5 linked regions of the Homo sapiens genome follow. The protein of the gene in region 5 purifies or fractionates together with the protein of the main gene of each other region. This does not show direct contact. Each region holds a gene or a part of one and is shown on either strand. Other genes may lie near its edges.

Region 1 (5,838 bases), on a different chromosome or scaffold from region 5:
AGGAAAACACAAGTTAACACTGACATATCAGTGTATTTCTGTCACACTGGCAGCAAATAGAAAGTTGGAAAATGCAGAATGTTGGTAGGGATATGGGGACCCCTGTGCTTTGCTGTGGAGAGTGGATAGGTACAGGTGTTCTGCAGAATAGTCATAATACTAAGTCAAAAGCAGAGTACACATACCCTTTGTCTTAGCAGTTCTGTCCTGGTATATGTCCTAAGGAAATCCTCACCAAGGTCCAAAGGGGAGATGTATTCATAGAAGTGTTATTTGTAGTAATGAGAAGCTGGTAGACAACCTAAGTGTCCATCTCTGGGAGAGTGGAGAGGGAAAATCAGGTAGGTATACACATGGAGTATTATACAGCAATTAGCAGCAACTGATTAGAAGTACACATAGGGGGCTGGGTGTGGTGGCTCACACCTGTAATCCCAGCACTTTGGGAGGCTGCGGTGGGCAGATCACTTGAGGCCAGCAGTTTGAGACCAGCCTGGCCAACATGGTGAAACCCCAGGAGTTTGAGACCAGCCTGGCCAACATGGTGAAACCCCGTCTCTACTAAAACTACAGAAATTAGCCGGGCCTGGAGGCTGAGGCACGAGAATCACTTGAAAGCGGGAGGTGGAGGCTGCGGTGAGATTGTGCCACTGTGCTCCAACCTGGGTGACAAAGCAAGACTGTCTCAAAAACAAAAAACAAACAAAAATCTAGCAACCTGGATGCTAAGTGAAAAAATAAAAACAGAATGAGATATAAATTCAAAATATACAAATAATACAGATCTTGTAAAAAACAAATAGTATTAATTAGATAAACACGAAAGAATGATTGCCTTATGAGCTGGGAGGAAAATGGGAGAAAGGCAAGTGTATAGAAAAATGAAAGAATTTTAAAGCAGAAATGAAGAATTTTTGAAAAGTTTGGTGATCTTTAAACTTGATTTGGGTTGAATGAGAGATAAAGAAAATTAATAGGAAGAACATCCTGCATACAATAACCGTTTTGTTTTCCCAATTTCTATAGGGTTGAAGCTTTGAGAGAAGCAGCAACTGCTGTTGAGCAAGAGAAAGAAATCCTTCTGGAAATGATCCACAGTATCCAAAATAGCCAGGACATGAGGCAGATCAGTGACGGTGAGAGCCATCTCCACAGAAGGGGCTCATCTTTTACACTCCTTTAAAGAGTTTATGATAAGTGTGGGTCAATTTTTGCTTGACTTTTGGTATGCGTACACCAGGCCACAGCATTTAATGTGAGCCACAGAGAGCAGCTGCAGCTGTCAGTTCATTACAGCAGCCACTTACTCAGAGATTTCTTCCAGCATGCTCTCTACCCCAAGCCCCTGGCTAGGAGAGATAGGAAAAAGCCTGCAAGCTCAGAAAAGCTGGCCCCAAGCAGTAAGGCCATGTGTTTTATCCCAGGTTCACAGTCCTAACTTCAGTTCCTCACAAGTTACTGGACTGCAAGAGATTAAAAAAGCAGAGGAAGAGGGTGAGAGAGTGGAAGCAGAGAAGTAGAGACCAAAAAAAAAAAAAAAAAAAAGATGAATTGAGGTACAACATAAAGAGAAGGGACAAAATGCAGAGAAAATGAGGAAACTTGTAGGACCAATAAAAGGCATGAATGTAAAAATGTGCTGTCATTTTCTTTTTTCTTTTTTTGAGATGGAGTTTTACTCGTCACCCAGGCTGGAGTGCAATGGCGCGATCTTGGCTCACTGCAACCTCTGCCTCCTGGGTTGAAGCGATTCTCCTGCCTCAGCCTCCCGAGTAGCTGGGATTACAGGCACGTGCCACCACGCCTGGCTAATTTTTATATTTTTAGTAAAGACAGGGTTTCACCATGTTGGCCAAGCTGGTCTCAAACTCCTGACCTCAGGTGATCCGCCTGCCTCAGCCTCCCAAAGTGCTGGGATTACAGGCATGTGACATCTGCCTAACCTGTGCTGTCATTTTCATGTGAAGAACATGAAATAGGAATAGGTCACTTCTGATTTTCTTTTATTGGCACTGGACTTCCTACTTGGGCTCCTTTGGTGCCACACAGGCCACATGGTACTGGGCCAAGTGGCTGGTGAGGTAAGTAAGCAACCTAAATCCAGATCAAAACTGTTACACATCTATAGGTAGGCCATGATCTAGTCTCTACGCTATCCTGCCCAAAGATCAATGAATTAGGAAGTTACAGAAGCAGGAGCTTGCTGACTTTCTCATATAAATAATGAAATGTTGATAGAGCTCCTCGTGCTGGCCAAGACTTTAGACCACTGTCCTGCTTCTATCTGGAGAAGGATGAAGTCAGTGCCTAGTATTGACGACAGAAGACAGCTTATCTTCTATCGTGGCTACATTTTCTCAACCAAAATTTGGGGCATTGTATTCTGATAAATGCACATGTCGTTCTGGAGAGATCTGGGACATCTGATCTCTGGAGCTCTACCCAGCATAAACCCTATATGTGCTTACTGCTCACAGTGTTAAGACTTGATCTCCATCCCAGTTACAAATGCATACCTACCCAAACTTTTGCAGACATGCCAATTTGAGAAGTCATCTGGTATCCCATATATGCAGATTGTCAGGAAGTGGTATTCTACAACCTCTTTCTGTAATCTAATACATTTCATCAGTTAATCTTACATGCTATAGTTTCAGCTTTTATCTCTAAAAAAATTTCATGGCAGAGGTAAAGAAAATAATAAATTTAGTCACAAACAAATGCCTTAATGTTTTTGACACAGATAAGTTTACATCTCATATTGATTTTTAGGAGAAAGAGAAGAATTAAATCTGACTGCAAACCGTTTGATGGGAAGAACTCTCACCGTTGAAGTGTCAGTAGAAACAATTAGAAACCCCCAGCAGCAAGAATCCCTAAAGCATGCCACAAGGATTATTGATGAGGTGGTCAATAAGTTTCTGGATGATTTGGGAAATGCCAAGAGTCATTTAATGTCGCTCTACAGTGCATGTTCATCTGAGGTGCCACATGGGCCAGTTGATCAGAAGTTTCAATCCATAGTAATTGGCTGTGCTCTTGAAGATCAGAAGAAAATTAAGAGAAGATTAGAGACTCTGCTTAGAAATATTGAAAACTCTGACAAGGCCATCAAGCTATTAGAGCATTCTAAAGGAGCTGGTTCCAAAACTCTGCAACAAAATGCTGAAAGCAGATTCAATTAGTCTTCAAACCTAAGAGCATTTACACAATACACAAGGTGTAAAAATGATAAAATACTATTTTAATTGATAACTAGTTCTTTGTTAGGTATAACCACTTAGTTGACACTGATAGTTGTTTCAGATGAGGAAAATATTCCATCAAGTATCTTCAGTTTTGTGAATAACAAAACTAGCAATATTTTAATTATCTATCTAGAGATTTTTTAGATTGAATTCTTGTCTTGTACTAGGATCTAGCATATTTCACTATTCTGTGGATGAATACATAGTTTGTGGGGAAAACAAACGTTCAGCTAGGGGCAAAAAGCATGACTGCTTTTTCCTGTCTGGCATGGAATCACGCAGTCACCTTGGGCATTTAGTTTACTAGAAATTCTTTACCTTAAGCAGCACACACATTTACTACACACACAGTGTTAACAAAGCACTGTGCTTAGAGGGTAAAAAGGAATCACAAAACAAGAATCTTTCCAAAGTTGTCTCATTCAGCAATGTTAAGGCATCTGTATCAAATTATTTTGGATGTAAAGATTCCTGTGTCTCATAATATGAATGTATTTTTTGATATACAAGAAACTGACATAAAATGTGAGAAAACCACCTATAATTTACCACTGTGAACAATTATATATCTATCTGCTTCATCTTTTCTCAAATGCATCAATTCTCTAAAATTCCTATATTGTAACTTGCCTTTTTTTAAAAAAGTTAGATGCTGATATAAAGTCTGCTTAATTGTCAACTTAATGAGCTCTATTTTGTGTAGTTATATCTTTATCCATTCCTCTTTTATGGACATTTAGGTTGTTTCCAACTTGTTGCTATTACTGCAACATATTTTTGTACACAGGACTTTTTCCTTCTTTCATTTTTGTTTTTCTCTGTATAAAGGCCCAGCAGTGAATTATATTGGGTCAAAGGATATAGACGTTTTCATGGCCTCACACATATTAAACTTTTTTTGTATAAAGGTTACAGCAATTTATACTTTTTTCAGTAATTAAAATATAGCTATTTCACTGAAATATTTCCAGCACTGAGCATTAATACCTAGTTTGCATTTTGTTTACTAAAAAGGTTGACCAGTGTGTTGATTCTTCTTTTATCTGATAAAGTGTGAAGCAACTAGAGAACACTTATTTGTTCAAAGTAACTAGTCCTATTGATATACAAAAACCACAACAACTTCCCTGGATACTATTTTGAAATGAACACATCAATTTTTATTTGAATGTAGGTATTCTTCACACTGAAAAACCAAATCAAGATCCAAACTGACTTTATGTATGTATATATCTCTCAATGCAAGCAATATCAAACTTCATTTTCTCTACAAAAATGCCAAGTTAGTCTCTTTATAAAAAGCAGTTACAATCTGAAGACATTCATGTTACTTCCTTTGCCAGCTCCAACTCTGCCTTATTTAAATCTTTGCATTTCATGGGAAACATTAATTCTATCTATGGCAGAGCCACTTGGTTTGTTAGCAGACTGATTTGCTGTCATCAGACTGTGAGATGATTTTTTGTGTGCATCATTTTTTTCTTGACCAGCTTTTTGAAAATTAAGAAATGGATAGTCATGTTTTCTTCAGGTTCTCAAGTATTGTCAGCATCCGTAAATCCCTTCCACTCTGGGAAATACTACTGCTCCCTGCTTCCCATGGCTTCCACATCAGTCCAGGACTTTTTCTACACAAATTATTCTGGCTCTGCCTCCTTGACCTTGGTATTCTTAGCATTATTTTTCCCATTTTTTTGCAATGGAGTTTTTAATGGAGGTCATTGATTTCTGATCACAGACTTGAAGAGCTATGATCCACATTTCCAAGCTGCTTGGGGTCCCTGGTTTACAGTGTCTCCAGCATTCTGTACCTAGAGCCACATCTAAAGGGCAGGGAATCTCCAGTGTGGTTTTTTGTTTTTTTGTTTTTTGTTTTGGAGTCTTGCTCTGTCACCCAGGCTGTCTGACAAGTAGAAGACATATCCACTGTAGCAAGGAACACTATGGAGTATATGAGTTAGGGAAAAGAGACTGTGAAGGGAAGAGAACAAACATTTTGTAGACGTTTGGTGTTGAATATATGCTATGGAGGCAGTTTCTATAGTTTCATTTACTTCATGAGGTTTCATTTTTTCTTTTCTGAGATGGAGTCTTGCTCTGTTGCCCAGGCTGGAGTGCAGTGGTGTGATCTCAGCTCACTGCAACCTCCACCTCCCGGGTTCAAGCGATTCTCCTGCCTCAGCCTCCCTAGTAGTTGGGACTACAGGCGCCCACCACCACGCCCGGCTAAATTTTTGTATTTTTAGTAGACATGGGGTTTCACCATATTGGCCAGGCTGGTCTCAAACTCCTGACCTTGTGATCTGCCTGCCTTGGCCTCCCAAAGTACAGGGATTACAGGCATGAGCCACCACGCTTGGCCAATGGGTTGGTTCTTAACATGTATTTTTATTTATAAGAATGGGAGTATAATTTATTTTCAAATGATGATGAATCTCCTGAGTCACATTTTTACCCTCATTTAAACTATTGTCTTTTATATAGACTATAAGTGGATATAGAGTATGTTTTGCTGTATCTCAATTCTCTACCATTCCTAGCATATAATACATAATTTTAGGGTAGCCCTCCTGCCATTCCTTGTTAGCAC
Region 2 (5,838 bases), on a different chromosome or scaffold from region 5:
AAAGAAACAATGAACTGTTGTGCATATCTTTAAAAACACTTGAAATTTCAGACTTACAGAAAACTTGGAATAATAGTACACTAACTCCTATATACTCCTTACCTAGAGCAGCTGTCACCACTTGCCCACATGTGTATAATTCTTTCTCTAAAATAGTTTAGTGGGCATTTCCTAAGAATAATTCTCTTCCATTCTGTAGTACAGTTATCAAATTCAGGAAATGTTGATGCAATATAATCTATAATCCATTTTTAAAATTTGGAAATTATCTCAATAATGTCTTAACAGTAATTTTTTTTCCTTGTCCAACATGGAATCTATAATTACACATTGCATTTAGCTATCATGTCTCTAGTCTCTTCTAATCTGCACTTGTTCCTTAATCTTTTGTTTTTTTTTATTGCATTGACATTTTTGAAGAGCACACTTTTTTTGTAGGATGCTTTATGGGTGTCATTCAGTGCTTCACATTAGGCATATTATGTCATTTAGTTGTGATATGAATTTTGATTAGTTAGGTTTTGCCACTGTAAAGTTAAATATCTTTTCTCTCTCTCTCTTTTTTTTTGAGACGGAGTCTCACTGTATCGTCCAGGCTGGAGTGCAGTGGCTCCATCTCTGCCCACTGCAACCTCCGCCTCCTGGTTTCAGGCTGTCCTCCTGACTCAGCCTCCCGAGTAGCTGGGACTATAGGCGTGTGCTACCGTACTCGGCTGATTTTAGTATTTTTAGTAGTGATGGGGTTTCACCATATTCGTCAGGCTGGTCTCTAACTCCTGACCTCAAGTGATCTGCCTGCCTCAGCCTCCGAAAGTGGGATTACAGGTGTGAGCCACCATGCCCAGCCTTATTTTTTCTCTTTTTGATTTGTAAATGAAGGATGGGAGATTCTCTATCTTTTTATCTTTCTTGAACACTTATGGCAAAATATTTTCCAGGTTCATCTTGCACTGTTCCTGGCCCAGTCCCTATTCTTGAATCAGCTGTTCCTTCAAGGAGGCCTGGTTCTTTTTAGTTATACTTATGAAAGGACGACAAGTTTATGTTGAATGATTGCATTTGTGTTTTCTTCCGGATTGGTCTAGACTGAACAAGGTTAGGAATCCTGTCTGCTTAAGCATGTATATAGAAATGGCATAGTAAGAAATTGTTGATTAAATCATTGTTTTCTCTAGCATTAATCTTAAGTTTTCTTTTTAGGATAGCAAACCTGAAACGCCTAAAATCTTTTAACCTTTGAATATGAGATAACTTTTTGTCTGTGCAAAATTACATGAAGCCAATTATAGTCATAATTTTTAGAGGAAGGCTTAGATTAAAATGTAAAGATGTGGTAGACTTCTAAATATGCAAAGAATCACATGGAGTATGATTGTGAATTACAGGTTTAATTACAGTTTTTTTCTTTTAAAGGAAGTATCTAACTTCTTAGTATAATACACTATTATATAAACTGTCTCATTTAATACAGAGAGTATTGAGGTATATGTTGATATCTTTCTTTTTTGTTTTTTGAGAGAAGAGTCTCCCTGTGTTACCCAGGCTGGAGTGCAGTGGTAGGATCATGACTTACTGCAGCCTTGACTGCCTGGGCTGAAATGATAATCCCACCTGAGCCTCCTAAGTAGCTGGGACCACAAGTGCAGGCCACCATTCCTGGCTGATTTTTGTTTCTGCTTTTGTGGAGACTCACTCTACAAAAAACTCACTGTTGCCCAGGCTAGTCTCAAACTCCTGGGCTTAAGCAGTTCTCCTACCTCAGCTCTCCAAAGTGTTGGGATTTCAGGAGTGAGCCACTGTGCCTAGCTGGTACCTTTCTTTTTACAGAGGAGTAACAGCCTTAGAAACTGAATAACTCATAATATATAATTGGATCTGCACTCAGGTGTGTCTTATACCTACTGCGAGCAATCTTTTTCAGGCTGCACTACCCTTGAGTGTTTATATCAATATTTTTGGAGACAGACTTGGGGAATTTTAAATATCTGCTGAAGTTAGGAATATGATTGCCTTTTTTTTTGAGACAAGGTCTTACTCTGTCGCCCAGGCTGGAGTGCAGAGGTGCAGTCTGGGCTTACTGCACCCTCCACCTCCCGGGTTCAAGCAATCCTCCCGCCTCAGCCTCCCTAGCAGCTGGGACTACAGGTGTGGGCCATTATGCCTGTCTCATTTTTGTATTTTTAGTAGAGATGGGGTTTCACCATATTGGCCAGGCTGGTCTTGAACTCCTGACCTTAGGTGATCTGCCTGCCTCGGCCTCCCAAAGTGCTGGGATTGCAGGCATGAGCCACTGTGCCCATCCGGGATATGATTGCCTTATAATGTTTTGAGGTGTGGGCTGTGGCATTTACATGCTTAGGGCTTTGTCAGTTTTTGGATATTTATCTTGTGGTGAGGTAAAGTGTTCTGAGCAAACAAAATGTATGTGAGTGTAGTCTTTTTACCGGCTATTGTAGAGTGGGCATTTTCAGTCTTGGCACTGTTGACATTTTGGATTAACTAATTCTTTGTTGTGGGAGCCTGTCCTGTGCATTGTAGGAATTTAGCAGCATCCCTAACCTTATAAGTTGTCAGTAGCATTCCATGTAGTGAATACTGAAATGTCAGCAGGGCATGCTGGCTCATACCCATAATTCAGAACTTTGGGATGCTGAGGCGGGAGGACCACTTGAGCCCAGGAATTAAAGACCAATCCGGGCAATATAACAAGATCCCGTCTCTACTCAAAAAAAAAAAAAAAAAAAAGAAAAAAGAGAAATTAGCCTTGCATGGTGGCGCGCCCCTGTAGTTCTAGCTACTTAGGAGGCTGAGGCAGGAGGATTGCTTGAGCCTGGAATGTCAAGGCTGCAGTGAGCTGTGGTGGCTCACTGCATTCCCACCTGGCTGACAGCAAGACCCTGTCTCAGAACCCCACAACAACAAAAACTGAAATGTCTCCAGATATTGCCAGATGTCTCATGGAGGCAGACTTGTCCCAGTCACCAATGGTGTAGAGTGATTTGACTTTCTAAAAGTCTGTTGAATAAATTAAAACTTTCTGTTGGCATTGCAGGGGTCTGTTGCAAATAAATTCTATGTTCACAATGATATCTTCAGATACCAAGATGAGGTCTTTGGTGGGTTTGTCACTGAGCCTCAGGAGGGTAAGTAGTGAAATACTTTAAATTACTTGTCTAAATTTTTTTTAATGGCATCCGATTGCCCTTAAGAGACTATGGGTTTCTTTACTGTTTTCATTACACTCTGTTCTTCATTAATAACTAATTATGGTATATGAAGAGTCTGAGGTTTTACCCTACTTGAAGCTGCTAACAGGTTAGCTTATATCATGGATGTTAGTAGAAGACATAAGACTCTTAGGTCAGAAGGAGACAGGCTAACTCACAGCGACAGTAGTAGTATTTTTGCCACATTTACCAATAGGATGTCATGGAGAAGGCTAGGTGATACTTCTACTGCAGTGGGTTGTGTTAAAGGCATGGGACACTGAGTTTAGGGAACCCAGATCTATTACAACAGGCAGTAAACATGACTACTCTTTGTGCTGGAGGGAGATACTCTTTCAAAGCTGTTTGCTATATAAATGTTCTTGAAAGACAGTCTAGAAGAAAGGGTAGGCATGGAAGATGTGTAGACACAGAGACTTATGGAAAATTTTCTCCAAAATAGTAGAATTGAGTGTTGTTTATATGGCTGAGAGTATATTTATTTTGTAATACAGTTTTACAGATAAGCAATCATTTGCCTAGTAAAGTGGTAGAGCCTGCATTAGATAACTGCCTAATATAATTTGGCTAATGTCACGTAGCCAGTAAGGTGACAGAGCCTGCATTAGGCTCCATGCTCTTAAAAACCAAGACACTACAGTAGCCTTAAAGTCTATCCTTAAGGCTGGGCGCGGTGGCTCACGCCTGTAATTCCAGCACTTTGGGAGGCCCAGGCGGGCAGATCACGAGGTCAGGAGATCGAGGCCATCCTGGCTAACATGGTGAAACCCCATCTCTACTAAAAATACAAAAAATTAGCCAGGCGTGGTGGCAGGCGCCTTAGTCCTAGCTATTCGGGAGACTGAGGCAGGAGAATGGCGTGAACCCAGGAGGTGGGGCTTTCAATGAGCCGAGATCGCGCCACTGCACTCTCTAGCCTGGGCGAGAGAGCGAGACTCCGTCTCAAAAAACAAAAAACAAAAAAAAGTCTGTTCTTCAAAGCCTTAGTTCTGTCCTTAAAGTCAGTGCCATGATTTTACCAAATTGTCCTACTTTGTTTATTTATATATGTTTTTCTTCACTGTTGTTTTGTGAACATTGCGAAAGTTAATGTATATGTGAATTCAGTAAGTACAAATTACTTTAAATATCTTTTTCTCACTTAGAGTCTGAAGAAGAAGTAGAGGAACCTGAAGAAAGACAGCAAACACCTGAGGTGGTACCTGATGATTCTGGAACTTTCTATGATCAGGCAGTTGTCAGGTAAGAAGATTTTGTTCACATGTCCGGGGCTGCATAAGAACTTGCATTGTCTAGTCTTTCCCTTTGTTGGAGGGCATTTACATATTCTGAGAATTACCTCAAAATAATAATTTCTCAGAAGAATGGTTTTGTTTCTGGTAATTTTGACTAAACAAAAATATGTAACTTGTTTGTTAATAGTAAATTGTACTATGAAGGCAATCTACTATTGCTTAGTTTAAATAGTATCAGTTTCTTTTTGGTTTAGTTTTTTCTTGGTGTTAAGTGAAAACTTGCATATTGTTTATCAAGAGTTGAATGTATTGAGGTATTAAATGCTTTGAGGGAATATGAAGTGGACAGAGACCTATTTAATTAGAGATCGGGCATAAATTGATATAAATACCAATATGTGAGTTAAGTAGCAATAAAGAATTTCATTACGTTAGTAAGTGCATCATTATACCTTTGGGTTTTTTCCCCCTTGTGATTAGAACAGAAATGTGTTTGATAGCAATAGAAATCCATATTTACTTGTTACCATGTGATACTGAATGTTAATATTCAGTGCCTGAAGGGTGTTTTCAAGTGTTTCTTAAGGTGTGATGAACTAATCAGGTTACTCACTTGGGTTGCTGGTTGAAAATGAAGATTCATGGTCCCACTGCAAACCTACCGAATTAGACTTTCAGGAGGCAAAACATCTGCAGTTTTGTTTGTTTTTGTTCTATTGAGACAGAGTCTTGCTCTGTTACCCAGGCTGGAGTGCAGTGGCGCGATCTTGGCTGACTGCAACCTCCGCTTCCTGGATTCAAGCAATCCCCCTGCCTCAGCCTCCTGAGTAGCTGGGACTACAGGCGCACGCCACCATGCCCGGCTAAGTTTTGTGTTTTTGTAGAGATGGGGTTTCGCCATATTGGCCAGGCTGGTCTGGAACTCCTAATCTCAGGTGATCTGCCCACCTTGGCCTCGCAAAGTGCTGGGATTACAGGTGTGTGCCCAGCCCCCTCTGCAGTTTTAACAGCATTTCTGGTTGATTTATGTGGAATTTTAAGAATTGTATTCTGAATCATAACTATTTTCTCCCCCAAATTCCTTATGTGCTTGAAAGAGTTTTTGTGTGTTTGTGTTAAAAGCCACATATCATAAAATTTGCCATCTTAACCTTTTTTTCATCTTAACCATTTTTAAGTGTAAAGTACAGTAGTGTTAACTGTATAGATGTGGTTCTATGACAGATATCTAGGACTTTTCACCTTACAACTTTTATTGAAGATAACTTTATATACCTTATAAACAGACTATACCCATTGAATGGCAACTTTCTTTCCCGCCCCCCCCGCCCCAGCCTATTTTGAGAGTTTTTCTGATGTTGTATGCTAAATGAATT
Region 3 (5,838 bases), on a different chromosome or scaffold from region 5:
CTCTGCCTCTTGGGTTCAAGTGATTATCCTGCCTTAGCCTCCCGACTAGCTGGGACTACCACCACCCACCACGCCCAGCTAATTTATGTATTTTTAGTACAGACAGGGTTTCACCACATTGGCCAGGCTGGTCTCGAACTCCTGACCCTCAGGTGATCTGCCCATGTTGGCCTCCCAAAGTGCTGGGATTACAGGCGCGAGTCACCACGCCAGCCCAGTTTGTTTATAAAATACAATCCCTGAGCTTGGATTTGGCCTCATCCTCCCTCACTATCCTGCAAATACAATACTAAATTTCACAAACCTGCTCAGCATAGAGGTCATCTCGGTCATGCATATGCTGATGTTTCCCCAAGTCCGTGGTTATCTCTCCCACTTCTGTGTAGAACTGCACATCCGTGTGCCGCTTCTTCCCAAACATGATGGCATTCTGTCGGCATAAAACAGAAAGAACACAGAAGTCAGAAACACAAAGGTATCTGTGATGGAAATGGCAGTGATCCAAACTTGGGCCTCCACAGCATGCATGCAAAAATAATTAAACCACCCCTGGTGTCATCATAAATAATGATGCTTGGGAATGGAAACAGTGTACATTTGAAAAAGTGCTGTGCTCCTACTTATTACAGGAACTTTGGAAATCATGTTGGTAACAAATCTTATCTAAAGCAAAACTTCATTTTAGAAAGAGAAATCTGGAGATCTCGTATAAAACATTTGCTGGCCACCATATAACACACCAAAGGAACAAACATGCTTATGAGCCCCTTCTAGATGCCAGGCCTTGTGGCCTTTAGAGGCATTATTTTATTTAATCCTCTTAAATGTTCTTAAGTGAGAGGTGATTTTTTCATCACTTTTTTGTTTTTTGTTTTTCACACGCTGTCGCCCAGGCTGGAGTACAATGGCGCGATCTCGGCTCACTGCAACTTCCGCCTCCCAGGTTCAAGCAATTTTCCTGCCTCGGCCTCTCAAGTAGCTGGGATTACAGGCGCTGGCCACTACGCCTGGCTAATTTTTGTATTTTTAGTAGAGACGGGGTTTCATCATGTTGGTCAGGCTGGTGTCGAACTCCCGACCTCAGGTGATCCACCCACCTCGGCCTCCCAAAGTGCTGGGATTGTGGGCATGAGCCACCGCGCCCAGCCCTTTCATCACTATTTTATAGGAAAGAAGCTGAGTGAAATGAAGTGTCTTGCCCAAGAGCTGACAGCTAGTTAAGTAGAAAGGTATACCTTGAGGTGAAAGTGCAAGACAATAATCATTTCTCCATCACAGGGCTGGAACAAAGCATGCTTAATATTATTGTACAAAATATCCACTTTGTCTCCTCGAACAGATGTGAAGCGGAAGCCTGGGGAAAAGAATGAAGAAATGTCAAGCAGTATAATTAAGTTAGGCCAAAAGGCACTGCAACTCTTCTGGCTGATTTGCACAGGGTCAGAGGAAACACCAACAGCTGTATAGAGCTTTCCTTTCCTTCTGGCCACACAGCAGTGTAAGTAGATTCCTCCCAGCATTTCCTTGTCATACTTTATTAGCACCATGCTTTAACCAACTGAGCTAACCGGCGGATGGCTCTTTGTCATATTTTATTATCTGATCTGTCATTCCTAACAAATGTGCCCTGAAGAGAAAGCCTAGGTACAGGAGAGATCATCCATACCATTGACATGGGCCTCCAGTGAGCCTTGCATCCTCTTTTGGGCAATATTTGGGCGAATGTATAGATCTTTCAGTTTCGGATTACTCCGGTTTAGATTGATCACCAGTGAGTCTTGTTTTACAATCCCCTAAGCAAGAAGAAAATTAATGTGAATTGTCACATATCCTTACAAGTCTCCAAAAAATACATGTCCTTCTTTGTGTAAGAATGTTTTGCCTGTGTTCAGGCTCACCTCCTTCTCTTTCTCTTCAGCTTCTCGAGTTTTATAACGTTTCTGTACTTCTTTAATAATTCGGAAAGCATTCTGAAGGTTCAAGGCTGGTACTGTCTGTTCTCCGGGTGCCTTAATATTTGATGCTCGGTATGTACTGCAGAAAAGCAACAGCATTTATAGACATTTCTTTTTCAGGCCAGGGAAATTGTACTGATTTACTTTATCTTCTAAGCAGCTTAATCTCTACTTTGCTTTTTTTTTTTTTTTTTTTTTTTGAGACAGGGTGTGCCTCTGTCACCCAGGCTGGAGTGCAGTGGCCCAATCTTAGCTCACTGCAACCTTCGCCTCCTGGGTTCAAGCCATCCTCCCACCTCAGCCTTCCAAGTACCTGGGATTACAGGTACACACCACCATGCCCGGCTAGTTTTTGTATTTTTAGCAGATACAGGGTTTTGCCATGTTGACCAGGCTGGTCTTGAACTCCTGGCCTCATGTAATCTGCCTGCCTCTGCCTCCCGAAGTGCTGGGATTACAGGCGTGAGCCACCATGCATGCCCATTCCTTCTTTTTTCATTTTTCAAATCTGGTATAACATCCCCAAATTATCCCATTTCACACCATGAAATCATAGAATCCAATGTGGCACCAGTTTTCTTATTTGAAGATTCTACTGCAATATATGTTTATTACTTTTAACACTTATTTTCATAATTATTTTTTTTTTGAGACAAGGTCTCGTTCTGTTGCTCAGGCTGGATGGAGTACAGGCAAGATCAGGGCTCACTGCAGCCTCAACCTCCCAGGCTCAAGGAATCCTCTCACCTCAGCCTCCACAGTAGCTGGATGACGGGTGCACACCACCACCCCTGGTTAATTATTTTTTAGAAGAGACAAGGTCTCACTATATTACCCAGGCTCAAAATATGTTTAGTAAATATATAGTATCTTCAAGAAGATTCTAAATTGGGATCCATCCTGAAAATAGTACAAAGTCAAGAAGGCGATCCGAAACAAGTACCAATGAGGAAGGCTTTGACATTTACTAGGTAGGGAAAATGTAGCACAGACAATGAAATGTTTCTGAGAGTACCACTCCAGACAAGATGAATCTGGGTATGACTTTTCTTGGGGACTCACATTTCCTTGACAAAAGTCGCTTCAGGGTTAGGAAAGATGTTGCCTTCATTCCTGCCCAGAGCACTGCCTGGGCAATAAAAGTTGATTCGCAAGTAAGTATAATCTCCTTCCACGGACATACTTATATTCTGTTCAAAGGAAAAGCATAAAAAGTAAACAGATTTCTTTCCTAGAGATTAGTAGTTACAGAGATGTTAAAATTAAGTTAGGAGTTACAAATTGACCGCTCTTAACCTTAATCTAAATCTAATAAATTTACATAATTTATCTTTTTAATAACGAAGTATCCTTTTCCCAAAAAAATCTCTGAATTCTCAAAGTACCTTGTACCATGAATACAACTAAAAGTTAAACAATGATTAAACGAAGTTGAAAGAAAGATAGGCAAATTATGTTTCTAGACTAGTTTAGCTTTCTACTAAGTGAAAAAAACTGAAAGAGGAAGGAGAATGACAAGACAAGAGGGATGTCAGTAACTGAACAGAGTCTGAAGGAGTCAAAAGTGGGAGACATGATGAATGCAGATTATTTATGGCAAATACAATTACTATTTTAAGCAACAGTTTGGATGAAACCTGATGCACTGAATGTCAGTACCTTGATTGTGGCAATGTGAAACGGTGTTGCAATGCCAAACACGGGCATTATTACAGTCTCATATTTCTTATCGATGTAGATCTTCATTTCCCGAATATGTGGTTCCTTAGGCATCAGAGATGGGTTTTTATAGGACACATTAGACTTGCGAGCTCTGGAGTGGGATAAAAAAACAACTGAGAAATTTCTGCAGTCCCACAGAACCCTCAGATGATCTCACTGCTCAGTGAAAACTCTTACTTCTGAATCTGCTGTTCTCCCTTTTGTTCAGTCAATCGCCTCTTTGCTTCTTCATTGAGTTGAGCCGCTAGTTCTTTCTGATGTGCTCTTCGCTTCTCTTCTGCAGTCATTTCATTCTGGTGAATGGAAAATCCAATTTATCACAACACGTGAGCCATATGACAGCCGAGATCAATGTAATTTAAAATAGTAAACTTACTCTTGTTCTTTCTGTAAGTAATGCTGCCCGAGAACCTCTTCCCAAAAGGTCCTCTGCCTCATCTTTCTCCTCCTCCTCTTCTTCCTCATCTTCATTCTATGGAAAAAGTCATAATCAAAAAATGAAATTTTAATTATTTTAGCCAATATTATTTAACTTCTTTATATCCTAAACTTCCTATACTACTTATCTATCTTCTTCCTACCTTTAGGAAAATCCCCACATTCTTCACTTTCTTCTTCACAGAAGTGAGAACAGTAGCTGGGCCATCCTAGAATTAAAAGGAGAATGAAGACACATTATTTAAAAGAGGCAATTTCATTTTCTAACCTAGTAAACGGCTGGGCAATGCTTTGAATCTTTTGGACACTAAAATGTTTGACAATGAATAAATATAGTTTTTATCCTTCTAACCTCTAACCTCTCGTCAGGAGCTACAATTTTTTTTCTTTTTCTTTTTTTTGAGACAGAGTTTCACTCTTGTCAACGAGGCTGGAGTGCAATGGCGTGACCTCAGCTCACTGCAACCTCCGCCTCCCGGATTCAAGTGATTCTCCTGCCTCAGCCTCCCGAGTAGCTGGAATTACAGACGCGCACCACCACACCTGGCTAATTTTTGTATTTTTAGTAGGGCCGGGGATTCACCATGTTGGTCAGGCTGGTCTCAAACTCCTGACCTCAGGTGATCCACCTGCCTTGGCCTCCGAAAGTGCTAGGATTACACGCGTGAGCCACTGCGCCCAGCCAAGAGCTACAATTTGGGAGGCAACATTGGGTAATCACTAATACAGGTTTGATTTGAAGCCTGGCTCAGTTGCTTTCTACCTCAGTGACATTTGGCAAGTTACTTAAACTTGTCTGTGCCTTCAATTTATCTGTAAATGGAGGTAATAAGAGTATCTACTTCACAAGGTACTATTTCAATGAATTAATGTAAACTGCTTAGCTTATGATAAAAACACTGAACTATCTGTGCTCACTATTATTAAAAATCAGTTCGCTGAGGGAAAGAAGCCAGTCACAAAAGACCACATAGGGTATGACTGAATTTACATCAACTGCTCAGATATTTAGCAAATCCTTAGAGAGAACGCAGTTTAGTCATTGCCTAGGCCTGAAGAACCAGTGGGGGAAGGGAAGGGGGATGGGGAGTGACTGCTAATAGGTTCAGGGTTCTTTCCTGAGGTGATGAAAATATTTTCAAATTAGATTGTAGTGATGGTTACACAAATGTGAAAATACTAAAAATCACTAAATTGTACATATCAGGTGGGTGAATTGTATAGTATGTGAATTGTAGCTCAATAAAGCTGTTATTAAAAAGAAAAAAGAATAACCGGTTTCATTATTAGTATTAGTTCCTGATATTATCATTATCAAGGTTCAAGCCACAATATGACAATATGATTTAAAGGTTTATATCATTCCCTATACCTGGGCTACAGTCTCTATTCCTAGCTGCATTAGGTTAGGCTGTCACACGGATTCTTCCCCTTAGCTAGCATTTAACAAAGCAAGAAAAAAACCACAGGGTCCACAAACGTGCCTCAGAAGTTAGTTCATGAAGACTCCAAAGTTTAGACACAATACACACCTCATCCACAAGCACTGTGTCACCAATGAACAGGGCATAGGTTTTCTCTTCTGGCTTTTTCCCCTCCTTGTTAGTCAGGTCTGAGAATCCTAAATTGATGCTGAAAACCATTCCTAAAACAGCAAAACAAGGATCAGTCTGTGGCTGTGACAATGTGGAGAGGTGTGAGACATATGCCTAAAAGAAAATAA
Region 4 (5,838 bases), on a different chromosome or scaffold from region 5:
TAGGAGCAGTTGATAGATTCTTTGGATGTTTTTTTCAGAGATCGTTCACTGAAGGATATTTTATACTCTTTTGGGATCCTACAGATCTGTCTTCTAAGGCAGCAGGTACACCAAAGAAGAAAGCTGTTGTCCAGGCTAAGTTGACAACCACTGGCCAGGTGACTTCTCCAGTGAAAGGCGCCTCATTTGTCACCAGTACCAATCCCCGGAAATTTTCTGGCTTTTCAGGTAAGATAGGTTAGGGCTACTTTAGCTGTTATAGTGCTGCTTTTATTTTGTATTCTACCTAGGATTCTGGCTAAAGAGTGAAAATTCTGTGCTATCTCATCTCATTAATAATTTGCTTCTGTCTGAGCAGAGACTGGTAATGGCTAATTCTAAGCCTTCCGCTTGGTTTTTGTTTGTTTGTTTGTTTTTTGGTTTTGGGGGTTTTTTTGAGATGAAATCTTGCTCTGTCATCCAAGCTGGAGTGCAGTGGTGCATTCTCAGCTCACTGCAACCTCCGCCTCCTGGGTTCAAGCGATTCTCCCACCTCAGCCTCCCAAGTAGCTGGGATTACAGGCACCTGCCACCATGCCTGACTAATTTTTGTATTTTTAGTAGAGATGGGGTTTCGCCACGTTGGCCAGGCTGGTCTCAAACTCCTGACCTCAGGTGATCCACCTGCCCCAGCTTCCCAAAGTGCTGGGATTGCAGGCGTGAGCCACTGCGCTCGGCCAGCATTCCACTTGTATAGCATTTCTTTGTATACTTTAACCTCTATCGCAGCGGAAAGATTTGTTTTGTCAAGACTTTTTCCCCTTGAAATAGTTACCTGGGCCAGACAGAGATTATTAGAACCTGTCTTTTACTTCCTTGTGTTTTGATAATGAAAGAATTTTGAGAAATTGTTTCCCTGAATATGCCTAGAAATGAAAGTATGAAAGAAGGGAGATGTCATGCATGGATCTCCCTTCTTGATTCTTAAAACTGTTTATTCAAAACACTGGAACTTCATGGAACACAAAGGAAGGAAAAAAAGATCTGAAGGATATTGCTATTTGTTGGGAGGCAGTACAGCCTAGGGATGAAGCTTGCAGACTTTGGAATCAGTGAGCTCTGGGTTCAAATCCCATCTCCTAAAGGGGAGGACTGTGGCTATTATTTGTAGGACAGATGAACAATAAAGTGTTAAGTTTCCTGTTCTCTTCACTAAAATACACACATGCACACACGTGTATACACACATATATAGTTTCTTTTATATAAAATATAGAATTACTATTTCATAGACAGGGATTCAGGAAGACTTTGCTGGGGCATGTGGTATAGATAGGAGTTGAGAAGATCAGGATCATTTATTGGCCTTACGTAAACAGACAGCATTGGACTAGGGGCTTTTATATATGTAGTTTCATTTCTTCTTCAGTTAACCCTAGACAGTACTTTTATTTAGGAAGTACTTTTTATTAGGCCCTTTTTATGACTGAGAAAGTTGACGTTCAGGGTTATCATGGAGTTAGTATTTGTACTGAAGTCTGACTTCAGTACTTGTGCTCTTTTATACTACACTGTGTTGCTGCTTTTATTGTTTGGAGACATTCTTGTGATTGACTCAGCTGAAGAAAATAAATAAAGCCAAACCACTTGGCCTTATTTTAGAAGTCATTTGGAGATTGAAAGACATTTTATGTGATTGAAAGAAGCCTAGACCTGAGGTCAGAAGACTTGGGTTCTGGTCCTTGACAGCTCAGATCCCTGAGCACGTCCTTACCTCTCTTTAGCCTCTGTCTATGAAGCAGCAGTGGCCTCTCCTACCATAGTGCTATGCACAGGGTGCTATAGGAGCACAGGCAGCAATATATAGATTACTTTCCCCTCTGCTTCAGTGAGTTTGTGTATTTATTTGTTTAAGCTTCATCATATCTCCATGCCTCATCTACCCCATAGTGTTCTCATGAGGACTGTAAGAGATAACATTGCAAAAACGGTGCCTGGCTCTATAGGATTTTTATTATTTAAAAATTCTGGGCCGGGCGCGGTGGCTCACACTTGTAATCCCAGCACTTTGGGAGGCCGAGGCGGGCGGATCACGAGGTCAGGAGATCGAGACCATCCTGGCTAACACAGTGAAACCCTGTCTCTACTAAAAATAAAAAAATTAGCCGGGCGTGGTGGCAGGCACCTGTAGTCCCAGCTACTCAGGAGGCTGAGGCAGGAGAATGGCATGAACCCTGGGGGCAGAGCCTGCAGTGAGCCAAGATCGCGCCACTGCACTCCAGCCTGGGCGACAGCGAGACTCTGTCTCAAAAAAAAAAAAAAAAAAAAAAAAAATTCTGAGGTTGGTTGGTTTGTTGTTTGCTGGTAGGCCAAAGATAGAGAAGAGTCCAGGTGATGATAAGGACAGCATGTTTCTGGAAGGGCTCCGGTGTTGGGGATGGAATTTGGGAGGAGTTGAGAGAAAGAGAGTGTTTTAGTTCTTGCAACCTGGTTGAACATTGACACTTTGGAGATTTTGTCCCCTAAAATCATATTTAGATTCCGGATCAGAGATGAGGATGGATTTATAATTTACAAAGCCCAGACAAGAAACAGTGTACAACAGCAGTTAGCTTAGTAATGGCTCTGCCACAAGTTTGCCGAATAAAATTTGCTTTTTAAATGGTCACAAGGAGGTGAAAGGGAATCACCGATGAGTTGCACATAATTATTTTTAAGTGTCTGGAGGAAATCCCTGCCCCTTGACCACCTTTTGTAAAAATGTATTATTTTTTTTTTATAACTGCTCCTTGGGGAGCAGGGTTTTATTTTGACAATAAGAAAAGAAAAGTTGAAGCAGCGAGGGGTAGGGATGTTGAGTGTACTAATGGAATCTGACTTTCTTAGTAGTGTCTTTGTCCTGGCTCTTTCAACAAGGAAGTGGGCCAGGAAGTCATTTGCTCTTCTCAGACCTCAGTCCCCTTATCAGTAAGAGAACATTGAACTAGATAATCTTTAAGGCTTCTTCCAGCTCTGACAACCTGTGATAGCAGTAATTTCACATTGTCTAACACGTACTTGATTTCTTACCCCTTTCTCATGCCAGCTTTTCTGGGATCAGCTTTACAATTGCTCTGAGATCCTTCTGACCACTTTTTTTTTTTGAGGCAGGATCTTACTATGTTGCCCAGGCTGGTCTCGAACTCCTGGGCTCAAGCAGTCCTCCCGCGTTGGCCTCGCATAGTGTTAGGGTTACAGGCGTGAGCCACTGTGCCCAGCCAGTCCTGATCATTCTTGGCATGACTTTGGTCTTTATTCTTCAGTAAAGTGCTCACATAAAGAGATGCACATCAGTCTGGTCTTTTGCTTGGGTCTAAGGAGGCCATTGTTCCTTTAACATTATTTATTAGCTGTAAGATTTGGGAAAATTACTTGGCCTCCATTTCTTTATCTGTAAGATGGATATAATGACATCTACCCCAAAAGTCTATTCGGGGAGATTAAATAAAGCTAAATACCAGCAGAATATCTGTTAGTTTCCTTCCTTCCCTTTCTTTCTTCTCAGAAAGGCAGAATGAATTCATCTCTGTTGTTTCTCCAACAGCCAAGCCCAACAACTCTGGGGAAGCCCCCTCGAGCCCCACCCCTAAGAGAAGTCTGTCTTCAAGCAAATGTGACCCCAGGCATAAGGACTGTCTGCTACGGGAGTTTCGAAAGTTATGCGCCATGGTGGCCGATAATCCTAGCTACAACACGAAGACCCAGATCATCCAGGACTTCCTTCGGAAAGGCTCAGCAGGAGGTGTGGCATGAGCATCCTGAATAGGCCTTTCCTCCGGAGAGCTCAAGGCCATGGCTGCCTTCCTGGGCATGTGAGCTGTATAGTTGCCCGGGATCCCATGCTTGGTTTAATGCTGTACTGTAGTGCTATCTGGAAATTCTTAATAATTTTGAACAAGGGGCCTCGCATTTGCATTTTGCACTGTACTCCACAAATTATGTAGCCAGTTTTTCTCAGAGCACTTTGGCATCTGTCTTCCTCTCCCCTTATTCTGCTCCTAGGAGGCCAGAAGAACCCATCCTATTTGACTAGTTAGAAAATTTACTGTCCTACATATTTAATTAGGTTTTTGTGAACCATATACACAGTTTGGAATAGAATCTTCCAACTCTGTTTCTTTCATTTATCTAACAAATTGTCGATGAGCATCTCTGATGTCCTTGTCACTGGGCACGTGAAGTGAAACTAACCACTCTGTCCAACAAGAGTTCATCTGTAGGCTAAAGGTGAGGCAGACACAATCCACCAGCCTCTGAACTCCATGCTGTCTCCTACTATAGCGATATGCACAGGGTACTATAGGAGCATGGGCAGCGATATATAGATATCTTTTGGTCTCTGCTTCTTTGAGTTTGTTTGTTTGTTTATTTATTGAGACAAAAAATGTGGCTGTGTTGCCCAGGCTGGAGCGCATGGGTGCAATCTCAGCTCACTGCAACCTCCGCCTCCTGGGCTCAAGCAGTCCTTCTGCCTCAGCCTCCCAAGTAGCTGGGACTATAGGCATGTGCCGCTATGCCTGGCTAATTTTTGTATTTTTTGTAGAGACGGGGTTTTGCTGTTTTGCCCAGGTTGGTCTCAAACTCCTGGATTCAATTAATCTGCCTACCTCAACCTGCTAAAGTGCTGGGATCACAGGCGTGAGCCACCATGCGCGGTCTGAGTTTATTTTTTTATTTATTTTTGTGTGTGTGTGTGAGACAGTGTCTTGCTCTGTCGCCCAGGCTGGAGTACAGTGGTGTGATCACAGCTCACTATAGCCTCGACCTCCTGAGCTAAAGCAACCCTCCTGTCTTCTCCTGCAAGTAGCTGGAACCATAGGCATATGCCACCATGTCCAGCTAATTTTTTAATTTTTTGTAGAGATGGGGTCTTTCTTTGTTGCCAGGGTGGTCTCAAACTTGTGAGCTTAAGCAATTCTCCTGCTTCGGCCTCCCAAAGTGCTGAGATTACAGGTGTGAGCCACCTTGCCCAGCCTTCTTTGAGTTTATATATTTATTTGTTTAAGCTCTATTTCTCAAGAAGGGTTCCTTCTGTCTCCAGATGGTTTCCACGGTGATGTGTACCTAACAGTGAAGCTGCTGCTGCCAGGAGTCATTAAGACTGTTTACAACTTGAACGATAAGCAGATTGTGAAGCTTTTCAGTCGCATTTTTAACTGCAACCCAGATGATATGGCACGGGACCTAGAGCAGGTCAGAGGAACGGGAGGGAGGGTAGGCTACATTCCAGGTGGGGTTTTGCCAAGCCAGGCACCTGCAGCCTCTTTTTTTTTTTCTGGTTGGGACACATACTGTTTTAGGAAACTGAAACCCATTTGAGCAAGCTTCCGTTATAGGGGGAGCTGAATGTGAGGCTATAGCTCTTAATTTCTTAAGTTTCTGAGGGTGGAAACCATACAACTGCTGAACCACAAAGGCCTGGTTCTCAAAAGGCAGAATTTGAGACTTGCCCCCTCTGTCTCTCCTGGGGCTTTTATTCTGGACTCTTTTTTTCTTGCTTGTTTTCTCCTATAACTTGGCTTTACCAAGCTTTGGTTTGTCCGTGACTCTATCCCTGGTACCATGGCAAGTTTCCATCCCCTTCTAGGAATTGTGGATGGGCTAGTGTCTCTAAGAAGTGGGCTAGATATGTTGAGTTGGGATAGGAGCTATGATTGAAATTTCTTGATTCATCTTCAGTCCTGGGTCTTGGGGGATACACTTGGCCACCCTAGGGTTGCAGCAGTGGCATTTTGGTTTTTGGAGACAGGGTGACGTGTCAGAGACAATCAGAGTCTTCTTTGAGCAGAGCAAGTCTTTCCCCCCAGCTGCCAAGAGCCT
Region 5 (5,838 bases):
AAGTAACAAGATAACAGAAACCAATTTTGTTTTAAAAGCTTTGCTCTAATTTGCTCTAAGAAAGCACATGAAACAATACACTAAACAATTTAGAGACCAAAGTAGTATTACAGCAACATCACATGCACAGGTTAAGCATCAAAATCTAGTATTTTCCTAATTTGAAAAGACTAGCAGATAGAACCAGTTCTGACCTCCTCAGCAACAGCAGAAAACAAATTCAGAAAGAGTTTGGTATATACCAGGAGTGGCAATCCTTTCAAAGTGGCTTATGAAGTTTTAGTCTGTATGACAAGATGAAGGTTGGGTATGAGAGCTACCTGTTTGGTCTTAAGTCTTGTGAATGGTGAGGGTAGAGACATTTACCAGCCACCATCACTGATAGTCAATAGCAGATTTTTCAGGAAGCAAGGAGGGCTTAGAGACAGCAGCCAGCCCAGTGACAATGGAAAATAACCTACATGCAAACATGCCACAGAATGCCAACCATAGTATAACTGCACCCTTCTCCTTAAGAAAAGAGCCAACACCATCACATACACAAAATCTGTGTTCCTCATGGGTGTGCTGCAACTGTTCCACCTACCAAAGGAATAAGGTAGAAGTTACTGTTTCTACAGCAGCCATCTCACACCAACATGTTCAGTCCAGACTATGTGACAATCACAATGAGTCATATCTTAAAAACCCTCCACTTGTAATAGTTTTTCATTGTATTAAAAGTACTAAAAGTTAACTAGCTTAAAAAAGCAGGTCTAACACCAACCTAACAAATTAAATCTGAATTCAGGGCCAAACAAGCACCCTTGTATGTTCATTTAAGGAGTTACCCAGAAAGGTTACAAAGCACACAAGGTACTTTTGTCAATCTTCTTTTGTATAACTAAATAAAGCCAAGATATGATCCTTTGAAAATAATCTCATTTAGAACAAACCAAACAAAAAGTTGGCACACGAGCATACATGAAAATGGGTATACTCAAGATTAGAGTCAAGACAGTTGACACTTTAAAACAAATGGGAAAGTAATTAGTTTGATATAAAAAGTGATGGTCAGGCCAGGCATGGTGGCTCACACTTGTAATCCCAGCACTTTGGGAGACCAAGGTGGGAGGACTGCTTGAGGCCAGGAGTTCGAGACCAACCTGGGCAACCTAGTGAGACCCCTATCACTCCTATCTCTACAAGAAATTAGAAAATTAGCCAGGCATGGTGGCTTGTGCTTGTAGTTCCAGCTACTTAGGAGGCTAAGGCGGGAGGATCACCTGAACCCAGGAGGTTGGCTGCAGTGAGCTGACATGGCAGAGCAAGACCCTGTCTCAAAAATAAATAAAAAGTAACTGTCTCACAAGGTTTTAACTCTTCCATGTATTGCTCCACAACCTAACCCAAGTATTTTTACTATTACCAACATTCCAAGGGTAAATATAGATAGGTCACTCCAGAAATAAGTCCCTTTGTAAAGTTCTCACTTGAAGAAATGTTAAACAGAGCCAAAGAGTCTTCCTTGGCATAAACTCTTAGTATTAAGAGTGTTAATATTTTTACATTTAGCTTACTTAGCCATATTGTAATTGTTTTCCCAATAAACGTGATGAAAATTCAAGGACTCTGGTGAAGATAACTGTATCAAAATGTGACTCACTAAGAACCACAGAAATGCTTGTATCAAGTATGGCCTCAACCAGAGTCCATAAATTCTTCATGTAATTAAAAGTGGATATACTGGTATGTATTCTCAGTCTAATGATTTTCTAAATCCAGCTGTTTCTCCAATAATGTTCCCTTAGATATACAAAGTTAAATATAAGCCACAGGTCTTCGTATTATTTATGTCCTGAGAGGCCCTAATAAAGACAGCATTAAAGACAAGCCTTTAGCTGAAAAACAAAACCATCAACTCAGGAACAAGATACTAATATTAAACATAAGATCCCAGGGTCAACTCTGGCACAAATGCAGATTTATCATTTGTGATGCCAAGTGGTAACCAGTCTTACGTCTCAGAAAGGCAAGACCCAAGGAAATCTAGGAAGTAGTATTTCAACTCTGATGGAATTACAGTGCAGATATCATACCATATTAATGAATGATAGAAGATATGTAAGTATTACTTGTATAGATAACAGCTTTAGGCTCCAGTCTGTAGAAATCACCAAGACACGGGTGGTTAAAGAGCCTACAAAACTCCTTTTACTGTCTCAGGTTCTTGAAACGTTCTTAATTATATAATTAAGATCCTTCTCAAAACATAGCCCAGGGCCCAGAGTTTTCAAAAGTAATCTCCAAGATGAATATTTGGGTCCCTCTTCTCCTTAGATGCTTTAACCCACTAGTTCCCTAATACAGGTACATATCTAGTTAATAATAAACATACTCAAACACAAAACCACGTGATATACAAATTATATCATTTCATTCTGAAAACAAATGCAAGCATTATTCTCTTTCATAACTGAAGAAACTAAAACTCCTTGAGGCAAAGTAACTTCCCCAACATTAACAGCTAAGAAGGGGCTCTCTTTATTACTTACTTGGGTTTTATGGGATCAAACGGCACCTCTTCCAATAGATCATATATGTAATTATTATATATTTCAATATAAGAGACAAATACACCATAGACACTATCTTCATCAACCTCTTCTGCTTTGCAGAATTCTTGTACAGTTATCATATCTGCAAACTCTGGATCTACTTGTCGTCTAAAAAAAGAAAAGTTCAATTGTATACGTTATAAGTCCATTTTAAAAGTAAATGATCCCAGCCGGGCATGGTGGCTCACAGCTATAATCCCAGCACTTTGGGAGGCCGAGGCAGGCGGATCACCTGAGATCAGGAACTCAAGACCAGCCTGGCCAACATGGTGAAACCCCGTCTCTACTAAAAATACAAATTAGCCGGGCATGGTGGCGTGTGCCTCTAATCCCAGCTACTAGGGGGGCTGAGGCAGGAGGATCGTTTGAACCTGGAAGGCAGAGGTTGCAGTGAGCCGAGATCATGCCACTGCACTCCACCCTGGGCAGCAAAGTGAGACTCTGTCTCAAAAAAAAAAAAAAGTAACTGATCCCAAGGGGAAACTAACAGATAAAATAAATATCTGCAATTACAAGCAGAAATGCACAAAGCAGCTTTATTCATACTCATGGTTTGCCAACAGTATTCCCACGTCCTCCCGAACACACAACAATGGCTTTTATACCCTCTCCCCATCCAGAGTGGCACCCTCTTAAAACAGTGATTGAAACAAAATGTGCTCAAAGCCAAAGAGAAAACATCTGAGCAAAGAACTTAAGAACATTCCTTAACTTTAATCTCACAAAAGTCAACTTCTCTATTTAATGTTCACCATTCCTCATGTCTGGGCAAACCACAGGAAAGAATCCTGTGCCCCTAGGCCAGTGCTGCAGACAAATATAATTACTTACTTGCTAGAAGAAGTCTTTGGATTGGGCATAGCTTCTCTTTTCTGACGTTCTAATAAGGCATCAACCTCACACTGTATATCCATACTATTCCTATCATTAGATTTGAAAACCTGAAGTGGGGGCAAAAAAAAAAAAATCACACCACGTTTTTTAGAATTTAACTTAAATAGTAAGAAATATGTTTAAAAACTAAGGAACAGTTAAGGTTTCAAAATGAATCCAGTGCTTTGGTTCTTCTTTACTACTACTGTATCCATAGGTGTCTTAGTCCAGTAAGATAGTCACAACACAAAAGAATCATACTTACATATCGTTTAGCTTGAAATGACCCTATACTGTTAAAGATCATGTCCAAACAACGAGGAAGCAGCCCTCCTTCCCCTGGAGAACCAGTCATTGTGTGAGTTTTTCCACTTCCCGTCACACCATATGTAAAAAGAAGACCTACAGTGTAGCAAGTCACAATGAGTTATATCTTAGAAGTTCTCCACTTAGAGTATTTCTTCACTGCATTAGAAAACACTAACAATTAGCCAGCTCAAAAAAGGCAAGTTTAGCACCACCCTAACAAATTAAATATGGATTCAACACCAAACATAAATCAAATATATAAATATCAAAAAAGTTTTATCAGAAGAGGAGAAAAAGGAAAATCTAACAAAACTCCAAGAGTCATATCATACCATTTTTGCCATGAATGAGGTCATTGACCAAGGGATTAGCCACAACATCAAAGAGTTCCTTCTGGGTGGTGTGAGTGCCAAATACTTGTTTAAATGAATACTGAGTCTGTGGAGAGAGAAAAAAATGCACTAAATAGAATTCCACTATTATCTAGGCTAAAAATACATCTCCTTAAACTTAAGGTGTTTATGACATTTAAGATCTAAGCATGCAAAGAAAAAATATAAATGGTCTTTTTACAGTTGGAACCCTTAGTTATTTAGTTACTAAAAAGTCATGACATACCTATATCATACCAATTATAAACTGGTAAACGTTTTCAGTCACAACTACTAAAGAAAATGTAGAAAACTCTTTTTTTTTGAGACAGAGTTTTGCTCTTGTTGCCCAGGCTGGAGTGCAATGACACAATCTCGGCTCACTGCAACCTCTGCCTCCTGGGTTCAAGCGATTCCCCTGCCTCAGCCTCCCAAGTAGCTGGAATTACAGGCACGTGCCACCACACCTGGCTAATTTTTATATTTTTAGTAGAGACGGGTTTCACCATGTTAGGCTGGTGTCAAACTCCTGATCTTAGGTGATCCACCCACCTCAGCCTTCCAAAGTGCTGGGATTACAGGCGTGAGCCACCACACCTGGCCAAAAATGTAGAAAAGTCTTAAGTCTACTAATGCTTCTAATCTAAGGCTGATTTTGTTTTAATTAAGTGACAGAGATCAAAAGGTATTGTAACGATTCATAGTCACAGATTTGTGGAAATCTACAAGCATTATGTCATACACAACTTTACTGTTTCCTAGTTTTTCTTTATAAAGGTGTCATTTAAAATAGCAAAGCATGGGCATAGTGGCTCACACTTATAATCCCACTTTGGAAGGCTGAGGCAGGAGGATCACTTGAGGCCATGAGTTAAGAGACCAGCCTGGGCAAGCTCATCTAATAAAAAATTTTAAAAGTAAAAACAACAAAAAAACCTCACCAAAAAACAGTGAGCTGTGGTCACACCATTGCACACCAGCCTGGGCAACAAGTGAGACCCTGTCTCAAAAAAGAAAAAGAAAAAAGACATATAAAATAAAATGGCATAGCAGCATAATACCACGTTTTGATGTACTATAGTTTAAAACCAGAAGTAAACTGTAAATATTATCTCATCTCTGAGTTCTTACATGAAATACATTTTAAATAAATTGTGACCTTTAAGAAAGCAAGAATACTTCAATTATCAAGGCTCTCTAAATACAATTAATAAAATATCCTGTAAAAATCAGCTTTAGAGTTCAAAAAGAACAAAGAATCTTGGAACTGAAAGGATACACATAGGCTAATACTGAGAAGATAGATGACCTCACAGTCCTCATGAATGACTCCCTCCTTTCAAGGTAAAGAAAACTGAGGCCCGAAGGTGAAACTTCTCTGAGCCCATGGAGTTAATTAGTATCAAAGCCATCATCAGTGCAATGTTTTTGTTTTCTTCTTTTTTTTTTTGAAACAGAGTCTCACTCTGTCACCCAGGCTGGAGTGCAGTGGTAGGATCTCGGCTCACTGCAACCTCTGCCTCCTGGGTTCAAGCAATACTCCTGCCTCAGCCTCCCGAGTAGCTGTGATTACAGGCGCATGCCTCCACGCTGGGTAATTTTTGTATTTTTAGTAGTGATGGGGTTTCGCCATGTTGGCCAAGCTAGTCTCGAACTCCTGATCTCAAGTAATCCCTCTGCCTCGGCCT

The links.
Region 1: the proteins of KIF23 (region 5) and BAG2 purify together in Homo sapiens (affinity purification with mass spectrometry; 2 studies listed by BioGRID). This does not show direct contact.
Region 2: the proteins of KIF23 (region 5) and G3BP1 purify together in Homo sapiens (affinity purification with mass spectrometry; 2 studies listed by BioGRID). This does not show direct contact.
Region 3: the proteins of KIF23 (region 5) and SUPT16H purify together in Homo sapiens (affinity purification with mass spectrometry; 2 studies listed by BioGRID, with this or other methods). This does not show direct contact.
Region 4: the proteins of KIF23 (region 5) and LIG3 purify together in Homo sapiens (affinity purification with mass spectrometry; 2 studies listed by BioGRID, with this or other methods). This does not show direct contact.

The regions. Positions count from the first base shown.
Region 1 is NC_000006.12:57,181,006-57,186,843, forward strand, and holds part of BAG2 (BAG family molecular chaperone regulator 2), read left to right. Parts: intron 1-1,026; coding exon 1,027-1,136; intron 1,137-2,772; coding exon 2,773-3,185; 3' UTR 3,186-5,838. UniProt on the Homo sapiens protein: Co-chaperone for HSP70 and HSC70 chaperone proteins. Acts as a nucleotide-exchange factor (NEF) promoting the release of ADP from the HSP70 and HSC70 proteins thereby triggering client/substrate protein release.
Region 2 is NC_000005.10:151,791,107-151,796,944, forward strand, and holds part of G3BP1 (ras GTPase-activating protein-binding protein 1), read left to right. Parts: intron 1-3,052; coding exon 3,053-3,143; intron 3,144-4,372; coding exon 4,373-4,469; intron 4,470-5,838. UniProt on the Homo sapiens protein: Protein involved in various processes, such as stress granule formation and innate immunity. Plays an essential role in stress granule formation.
Region 3 is NC_000014.9:21,359,180-21,365,017, forward strand, and holds part of SUPT16H (FACT complex subunit SPT16), read right to left. Parts: intron 5,761-5,838; coding exon 5,648-5,760; intron 4,325-5,647; coding exon 4,259-4,324; intron 4,150-4,258; coding exon 4,054-4,149; intron 3,971-4,053; coding exon 3,855-3,970; intron 3,769-3,854; coding exon 3,615-3,768; intron 3,146-3,614; coding exon 3,018-3,145; intron 2,035-3,017; coding exon 1,899-2,034; intron 1,794-1,898; coding exon 1,667-1,793; intron 1,355-1,666; coding exon 1,236-1,354; intron 431-1,235; coding exon 305-430; intron 1-304. UniProt on the Homo sapiens protein: Component of the FACT complex, a general chromatin factor that acts to reorganize nucleosomes. The FACT complex is involved in multiple processes that require DNA as a template such as mRNA elongation, DNA replication and DNA repair.
Region 4 is NC_000017.11:34,985,904-34,991,741, forward strand, and holds part of LIG3 (DNA ligase 3 isoform alpha precursor), read left to right. Parts: intron 1-84; coding exon 85-228; intron 229-3,562; coding exon 3,563-3,760; intron 3,761-5,059; coding exon 5,060-5,211; intron 5,212-5,767; coding exon 5,768-5,838. UniProt on the Homo sapiens protein: Isoform 3 functions as a heterodimer with DNA-repair protein XRCC1 in the nucleus and can correct defective DNA strand-break repair and sister chromatid exchange following treatment with ionizing radiation and alkylating agents.
Region 5 is NC_000015.10:69,420,026-69,425,863, reverse strand, and holds part of KIF23 (kinesin-like protein KIF23), read right to left. Parts: intron 4,218-5,838; coding exon 4,112-4,217; intron 3,873-4,111; coding exon 3,736-3,872; intron 3,539-3,735; coding exon 3,429-3,538; intron 2,706-3,428; coding exon 2,535-2,705; intron 583-2,534; coding exon 541-582; intron 1-540.